2 linked regions of the Homo sapiens genome follow. The protein of the gene in region 1 purifies or fractionates together with the protein of each later gene. This does not show direct contact. Each region holds a gene or a part of one and is shown on either strand. Other genes may lie near its edges. The genes, in order: SMAD5 and RUNX2.

Evidence for each region.
Region 2: the proteins of SMAD5 (region 1) and RUNX2 purify together in Homo sapiens (affinity purification with western blotting; 2 studies listed by BioGRID and IntAct, with this or other methods). This does not show direct contact.

The regions. Positions count from the first base shown.
Region 1 is NC_000005.10:136,177,671-136,183,376, reverse strand, and holds the end of SMAD5 (mothers against decapentaplegic homolog 5), read right to left. Parts: 3' UTR 644-5,706; downstream 1-643. UniProt on the Homo sapiens protein: Transcriptional regulator that plays a role in various cellular processes including embryonic development, cell differentiation, angiogenesis and tissue homeostasis.
Region 2 is NC_000006.12:45,548,330-45,551,899, forward strand, and holds the end of RUNX2 (runt-related transcription factor 2), read left to right. Parts: 3' UTR 1-2,753; downstream 2,754-3,570. UniProt on the Homo sapiens protein: Transcription factor involved in osteoblastic differentiation and skeletal morphogenesis. Essential for the maturation of osteoblasts and both intramembranous and endochondral ossification.

The sequences.
Region 1 (5,706 bases):
TACAGGCACGCGCCACCACACCCGGCTAATTTTTGGATTTTTAGTAGAGACGGGGTTTCACCATGTTGGCCAGGCTTCTCTTGAATTCCTGACCTTAGGTGATCCACCTGCCTCAGCCTCCCAAAAAGCTGGGATTACAGGCCTGAGCCACTGTGCCTCGCTCACCATTCCTTTCTAATTAGAATGAGTTTGCATGTCTTGTATATGTAATTCAGAGGTTGGTAAAAGTGTGCAACACAGTGACAATGATGCAAAGTCAGTCTGTGATTTAAAATTTTTTCAAAAAAGAAGACAAAAGGAAATAAAAAATTGTAAATTCACAAAGTGGATCATCAAAGGTTGATACACCGAGGTCAAGCAACATAAGAAGTAATTATTCTGAATCAAAGAACTAGTGGAAATGTAAAAGATAGTAACAATTTTAATATTTGAGTTCTTATGTTCTAAGTACTGTTCTAAATACTGTATTTGTATTACACTTCAATTAATCTTCCCTCAAATCCTTCCTATGAAGTAGACTTTTCCTTTACAGGTCAGGAAAGTGAGGCATAGAGTGGTTAAGCAACTTGTCTAAGCTATGAGGCCCATGACTCAAACGCAGGCAGGCCAACTCCAGAGCCAAAACAAAAAAAGACACATTAAGCAGGTTTTGAGGTTTATTAAAGTAAAGAATTAGCAAACAATATGCAAAAACAAAGTTCTTAAGAGTTATGGCTTTCAAAAGCACAATATAGTAAAACCTAATACATTTTCATAAGTATCAAAATAACAGAATTGAAGCATGTTGCTAGAATTTCAGCTTCTACAACATAAACAGAAGCACAACAAATACAAATAAGCAGCAGACCTACAGTGCAGCCACTAGCTTGGTCTTCATTATCTGTATATGAAATATCTTTTTAAGAAAATGTGGGCAGGTAGATACAAACATTCTATTTCCATGATTACAATCCTCTTCGATTTTAAAATAAGTGAATTTCAAAATACAACTTACGCCAACCATATTTAAAAAAAAAATCACTTGCCTAACCATTATCTTCTAGAGTTCCTATAGTTAAAATACTTTATGAATAAATCAATGCAACATCATCTTCAATGATATTAGAAGGGAAAATCTGACCCTAAAAGATTTTTTTTTTTTTTCCACAAAGAACTTGGGATTCTTTGGCCTTACTGGAGTTTTGTTATAGCTAACACCAGTCTGTATTAATTAAGAAGGCACTATTAATGAGGGACGGAAAAATCTACCTGTACACAAAATTCTGTACTTTAACAGCATCTTCAAATAAACCTTTAAAGGATAATGGTTTACGATCATTTTAAGAATTTTAAGAACTGAGTTATTTGGACAAGAACCATACAAACCTTTTTCACTCTGCCATGAATGATCGAAGAATCCTGCTCTAGGACTGGATCTTTTCAGAGAAAATAACTTATCACCTGTTTTACTGCAGTTGCTACTAGCAATTATTATATAGCATGTGCTCTTCAAAACAGAAATAAAAATTGATGTGTGAAATCCCTTTCATTGGTTTTGGTAAACCATCCAATTTTGGGCTGTCATTTCAATTATAATACAGTTGTATTTTAAGAGAGAAGATAATCCAATATAACAAAGGCTTGATAAATATTGTCACTCTGTAATCAGGACATACTAAACTGTAATTCAGCGAATTCCAAAGAACTTTCCAGGTTTCTGTCCAGCAGGTAGAATTCTTTGTTTATGCAGAAGAAATGCCTTCAATTCTCACATTCGATTCAGGCATCTTGTGTGATAAGAAAAGCTCCTAAGAATCTTACTTATATCAATGAGAAAAATGCTGCTGCTCTGGGAGACCTGAGATTACTCCCCAAAAAGCTGCCCTAATAATATCTGATACCACCTATAAACCACCACTTAGGAAAACTCTCTCCATAAAAATCACCAAACACTTCTAAAACCACCAGGCTACCTACTACCCTAAGATACTTGCTCATCTAGCTGAACAATATAACGATGACACACATTTATATTCATACCCAAGAGATTAGGTGAGGATTTAACTAGTAAGACAAAGAAGGGATCTGACATTCTTTAAAGTTAAAATGTAAGTCCAAAATATAAGTCATCACAAAAGGCTGAACTCAGTAATTATCAAAAAATTCTTCCTTCCTCATGAAGTAAAAAGGATATTTATATATTTTAAGTGGCAAAGGTGATAATCATCCAAAGTACTATTAAGCAATTGATTAGAAAAAGTATAAAGAAATAGATCTAAATTGGTACATCAGATGTTCTCTATCACAGAAGTACAGCACTTTGATAGGTACTATCAAACTTTTTAGAGTTTCTCTGCTGTTGGAAGAATTTCATTTTTTGTATAAACATTCTCTTCCAACAAAATACTACCACACAGGGGAAGGAACTGTTCCCCACAGGTACCCTCAGGTAATATGGAAGGTTTTTAACATGAACCCCAGTTCTAATCTTGACAACAGATTTCAGGTATGAGTACTTAATAATCACTTCACATCCTGAAGGATATCTTACTCTCAAATGTTATGAAAGGTATAAAATAGCTACATCCTCTATCTGTGCCATTAGATGTGGCTTGTTGAACTGTCTAGTACTCTTACTCTGGATTTCACCTCAGAAACCCAACCAATTCTATTATTTTTTTTATATAGCAACAATACAATGTGAAAAATTATTTATATTCTGACACACATATTTGACATTTTGATTGACGTCTTCCTTAAATCTCCTCTTAAAAAGAGGGTTAGTTTTAGCAGATCAATAACACGCCTACTAGTTTACATTTCACGTCAGCCAGGCAATACTGACCAGACCAATACTGACCAGACCATAAATATTATGTAGAAATGTTAAGCAAATGAATCTCTTATATCTTGCTTTTTGCCAATCAATATCTTTTTGTTGCTTTAATTCATTACTGAGATTTCATTCTATTCTGCTGTTTGCATTACCAAACTGGTTGCAATTTTATTATTCCCAGATTCTGTCTTTTCAGCCAGCATAAATATATTGTACATGCTATGTGATTATTCTAGTGGTGCTAGAATTTTACTATAAAACATTCTGTAGATTAAATTAAAACATATAACCATAATTTGCTAAAATGGTTTCTTTCAGAGGTACTTTCCTTTCACTAGCCAGTTTTTAAAAATCTTACTAGCAAATTTTATCTCCTATACATAGATATATGAAAATCCTTAGGGACTGTAAGAATAGCTGGACTGAATAAAATTTTCATTTAAAGTCCAAGGGTGGGGAGTTGACAACTTTTAGGAGATACAACAGGCTTATAGTTCTCTGTCAAACTCTTAGTTGTTAATAGCTTTAGTACTGTCATTCATGAGACACAACTCCTAAGAGAAAACAAAGAAAAGGCCAATCACGTAAGATCTTGTTAACTCAAGACTGTGACATAATGACCCCAAATAAAAACAATTTTTAATTAACTCACAGTAGAAAACACCAATAAAACAACTCTCTAATTTCCACTAGTTTACTGCAGCCCAATGAAGTTGATTACATACATCAGTCATTCAATTGGAGTAATTTTTTCCTACAAATTTGTTCCAGAGATCATGCCATAAGCCTGGTTAAGTAAAAGAATGATGAAAATGCCAAAGTTCTATCAAGTAAGCAAATATTCTCTTTCGTGTGGCAGACAGAACTCTGGAAGAAACAGAATGCATGTCATGTAATACTTACATTTAAGGCTCAGGTGACTGTCAGAAAGTATTTCTTTTACCCAGCAAAGAACTGTGAGCTGAAACACAAATGGCAGTTCATCTGAAAGAACTAAAACCATCCACTGGCTGCACATTGAAAAAGCAATAAATAATGACACAGAAAACAAAAGAAATTGCATAATTCTTTCCTCGAAAATGCTTTTTTTTTTCTTCACAAGAGCAGAAAGGACAAAGTGGAAAGTCAAACCAAACTAACATTTTAAACAGAAGAATGATATGACTCCATATACTTTCAAAAGGCACCAGAAAATAAAGCTTTCACTGATAGGTAAATTAGGTCATTTTTTTTTTCCAAAATAATTTCTTCATTCTCATGTCATAATTAAGTGTCCATTTGACAGCTCCTGAGAAAAAAACTGGTTCAAAGTTCTTTATCCAAAGCCAAAAACATGATTGATTAAATGGATATTTTGGAGTTCGTTCATGTCTTTTCTCTCTAAAGATTGTGTTTTGGGAGACTAGCTTCCACATAAGTACTTAAAAAATGGAAAAAGAGGATCATCGATAAATGAGAGAAGAGTCTATATTCGTTGATGGGTGAGTGTTTTGTTTTGTTTTGTTTTTTGAGGCAGAGTCTCGCTCTGTCGCCCAGGCTGGAGTGCAGTGGTGCGATCTCGGCTCACCACAACCTCCGCCTCCCAGGTTCAAGTGATTCTTCTGCCTCAGCTTCCCGAGTAGCTGGGACTTCAGGCACGCACCACCATGCCCAGCTAATTTTTGTATTTTTTGTAGAGACAGGGTTTCACCATATTGGCCAGGCTGGTCTCAAACTCCTGACATCATGATCTGCCTGCCTCAGCCTCCCAAAGTGCTGGGATTACAGGTGTGAGCCACTGTGCCCAGCCGAGTGTTTTAAAATCAGCTATCCCTACATCCACTGCTGATTCATTTAGTATCAAATCAGTAGCCTTATCCTTGGGGCCCAACTGAAGAGCCTCCTACGGCTCCAGTGCATAGGTCCTTGCGTAGGGAGGCTGATACAAGTAAGCTGACACTTGTAAGAGCAATGGGATTAACTACATGATTCTCCAGCACTGATAACACCCATAAAACTGTAGGGAATTAAAAAGGCACCTTAAGTTGGAGCTATAGAATAACAGTCTTATAACCTAGGTTGAAAGTAAAACAAAAACCAGAAAAAAGCATAACTTCCTACAAATGTAATCTATAAATTGCAGTGTTTGTTAATACAAAAAAGGTACCAAGGACGTAAGGATAAGCATCTAAGTCCAAGTCACTTGAGTGTATTTTATCAAAGGTTATGCTAAAAACTGTCACCCATAAAAGTGCAAAATAAAAGATTAATGCATGTCAAAAATAGAGTTCTTGCAACATTGTCCAAAAGCAGCAAACATAGTTGAACAAGGCTGTGCATGCACTGTCACTAGCTATAAAGTAATGCTTATGACAGATTTTGAGTAAATGACATATACTTGAGATCAGTTATTTGCAAAAATTTTTTTAAAAAAGGAAATGTCTTACAAAAGATATATAGCATGAAGTCACATTACACTGAAGAACACTTATCTGTATTAAATGTAAATTTTATGTCATCTAGAAAACTATCATTTTGCTTTTACTGAACACTACCAGTTACAGCAGTGCATAGTGTTCATTCAAATAAAACTTTATAGTTTCTTTTAAGCCCCTACCATACACTTTTGCAAAACAATGAATTGTACTTTTTTTTTTTAAGTTGGTGGGACAAAGAAACTGGTAAAAGTACAGCTTCTGGAAGATCGAGAGTAGGAGGGAAAACTTACTCTTCACTGTATATGCCCTCTTATAAGCTACTATAATTTTTCATCATGTGATGCATTTTCAAATAAATTTAATAAAAAATTGTTAGGGCAATAAAGTAAAAGCATGTTCCAGTTTAAGATCAATGCCAAATTTCTGAACTGGGGCATAATACTTACTCTGCATCTTTTACAACACTTCTAAGAG
Region 2 (3,570 bases), on another chromosome or scaffold:
GAAATATTGCTAAGCAATTTCAGTTCATCCAGGCACAATGTGATTTTAAAAAATACTTCCATCTCCAAATATTTTAGATATAGATTGTTTTTGTGATGTATGAAGGAAATGTTATGTTTAGTTCTTTCAGATCTTTGAATGCCTCTAACACAGCTTTGCCTTCTAAAGCGGTAATTAGGGATTTAAAAAACAACCTTTAGCCCTTTATCAGCATGAAATGCTGGAGTGATGTGGTTTTCTAATTTCTTTGGGGTAATTATGACTCTTGTCATATTAAAAAGACAAGCACAAGTAAATCATTGAACTACAGAAAAATGTTCTGTGGTTTCATAGTTAAGCAAAACTCTAAATCGCCAGGCTTCATAGCAAAGACATAGTCAGCTAAAAGCCGCACATGTGGATAGAGGGTTCAATTATGAGACACCTAGTACAGGAGAGCAAAATTGCACCAGAGATTCTTAACCAACCAGCCTTACCAAACAACACAACAGGGGAACCCCAATCTGCCTTACCCAAGGCCCCACTGGCAGCTTTCCACAGAATTTGCATTTAGAGGAGCAGAATGACATCACTGTCCTTTGGGAGTAGGTCCTCTGAAAAGGCAGCAGGTTCCAGCAGGTAGCTGAGCTGAGAGGACATATGGCCCACGGGGACCTACAGACAGCCTTTGACATTTGTATTTCTTACAATGGAGGGCCAAGGAGGGCAAGGGGCTGTGGAGTTTGGTGTCTACTAGTGTGTATGAATTTGAGCTAGAGTCCTTCTGTGGCATGCACTTTGACCACTCCTGGCAGTCACATGGCAGATTTCCAAGTGCAAATCCTTAATCCAAACAAGGATCATCTAATGACACCACCAGGCCAATCCCTGCTCTCCTCCCCGAAAAGTCAGGGTCCCTTCATTGGAATCCTCCACCCACCCAAGCAGAATTTAGCAGAGATTTGCCTTCAAACCCTAACGGCCCCCTTGTTCTCTGGTCCTTCTCAAACCCACCTTTGTAGGCCACCCAGCATTGCAGGACAGCGTGTGGGGCAGCTGGACCTGTGCTTCCTGCCTGGGAGTCTCCCTTGGAATTCATCCTGACTCCTTCTAATAAAAATGGATGGGAAAGCAAAACACTTTGCCTTCTAAAGGCCGTATACCAAGTATGCTTAGATAAATAAGCCACTTTTCTATTACTTAAGTAAGAAGGAAGTAGTAATTGATACTATTTATTGTTTGTGTGTGGTAGCTTGAAGCACACCACTGTCCATTTATTTGTAAGTGTAAAATATGTGTGTTTGTTTCAGCAGCACTTAAAAAAGCCAGTGTCTGGTTACACATTTCAATTTTAATTAATTGACATAAAAATGCTACCGCCAGTGCCAGCTGCATCCTATTTAATTAAAAAGGTACTATATTTGTACATTATTTTTTAATGTTAAAAGGGCTTTTTTAAGTTTACAGTACACATACCGAGTGACTTTAGGGATGCTTTTGTGTTGAAATGTTACTATAGTGGCTGCAGGCAGCAACCCAGAAACACTTTAGAAGCTTTTTTTCCTTGGGAAAAATTCAAGCACTTCTTCCCTCCACCCTCACTCCAACCACCCCAATGGGGGTAATTCACATTTCTTAGAACAAATTCTGCCCTTTTTTGGTCTAGGGATTAAAATTTTGTTTTTCTTTCTTTCTTTTTTTTTTTTTTTCACTGAACCCTTAATTTGCACTGGGTCATGTGTTTGATTTGTGATTTCAAGACCAAAGCAAAGTCTTACTACTACTGTGGAACCATGTACTAGTTCCTGGGAATTAAAATAGCGTGGTTCTCTTTGTAGCACAAACATTGCTGGAATTTGCAGTCTTTTCAATGCAGCCACATTTTTATCCATTTCAGTTGTCTCACAAATTTTAACCCATATCAGAGTTCCAGAACAGGTACCACAGCTTTGGTTTTAGATTAGTGGAATAACATTCAGCCCAGAACTGAGAAACTCAACAGATTAACTATCGTTTGCTCTTTAGACGGTCTCACTGCCTCTCACTTGCCAGAGCCCTTTCAAAATGAGCAGAGAAGTCCACACCATTAGGGACCATCTGTGATAAATTCAGAAGGGAGGAGATGTGTGTACAGCTTTAAGGATTCCCTCAATTCCGAGGAAAGGGACTGGCCCAGAATCCAGGTTAATACATGGAAACACGAAGCATTAGCAAAAGTAATAATTATACCTATGGTATTTGAAAGAACAATAATAAAAGACACTTCTTCCAAACCTTGAATTTGTTGTTTTTAGAAAACGAATGCATTTAAAAATATTTTCTATGTGAGAATTTTTTAGATGTGTGTTTACTTCATGTTTACAAATAACTGTTTGCTTTTTAATGCAGTACTTTGAAATATATCAGCCAAAACCATAACTTACAATAATTTCTTAGGTATTCTGAATAAAATTCCATTTCTTTTGGATATGCTTTACCATTCTTAGGTTTCTGTGGAACAAAAATATTTGTAGCATTTTGTGTAAATACAAGCTTTCATTTTTATTTTTTCCAATTGCTATTGCCCAAGAATTGCTTTCCATGCACATATTGTAAAAATTCCGCTTTGTGCCACAGGTCATGATTGTGGATGAGTTTACTCTTAACTTCAAAGGGACTATTTGTATTGTATGTTGCAACTGTAAATTGAATTATTTGGCATTTTTCTCATGATTGTAATATTAATTTGAAGTTTGAATTTAATTTTCAATAAAATGGCTTTTTTGGTTTTGTTATGTGTGTACCTTGGGTCTTTTCTTGTTCACGGTTTCTCCCTAGTCTGATGTCTACTCCTGCTTACACCTGGGCACTGTTTGGTCTTAGGACTTGCCAGGGCTAGTTAAGAGAAGAGATGCTATATTACTGGGGAGAAGAAAAAAAATCTTGGTAAACGGTGTCTTCTTGTTTTGTCCTGTTCCTAGCGAGGGGTGGGCAAAGAATCTAGCAGTGAACTCACTTCCTTACTAGCTTGTGTCTGAAGGAAGGAGTGCTCACCTCATCCTTGAGTAAGGCCATTTATTCCAACTGGGGGACCTATCAGGCGTATAGATGCAGTCTCGATGGCTTCATGATTCTAATCTCTGAGAACATGAACAGGGCCCCGCAAGTGAACCTCTGGCTATCAACAGAAGATCTCAGGCAGCCCAGATATAGGCTAGTCTGTTTTCCTTTCCACATCTCTTTTGGGTTCTTAAAAATAAAGTCAACCAAAGCCCAAGGATGAGTAAAAACGGACCTTGGCCTGGAGGGCTATAGCCTCAGAAGAATTCTCCTAGTGAACATAACTATAGTTTGGAGATTTTTTTTTCCCGTGGCCATTGTTTATTTTTGGTAAGTCCCCCCCCTTGTGATAAGGTTGAAGACCTGGGGTAGAAAGGTTGCTTTCTCTGTGTCCTATGCTTTCTGAATGCTTGGGCTCACCACAATTCTAAAATAGGGACCCAGGAAAACATGGTGCAGAGAAGGTCAGCCAGTGGCCAAGCTGACCCACATCACAGGGAGAGTTAGAGACCTTGAAGATCTGCTCATTCTTAACCCTTTGGCACTATTTTC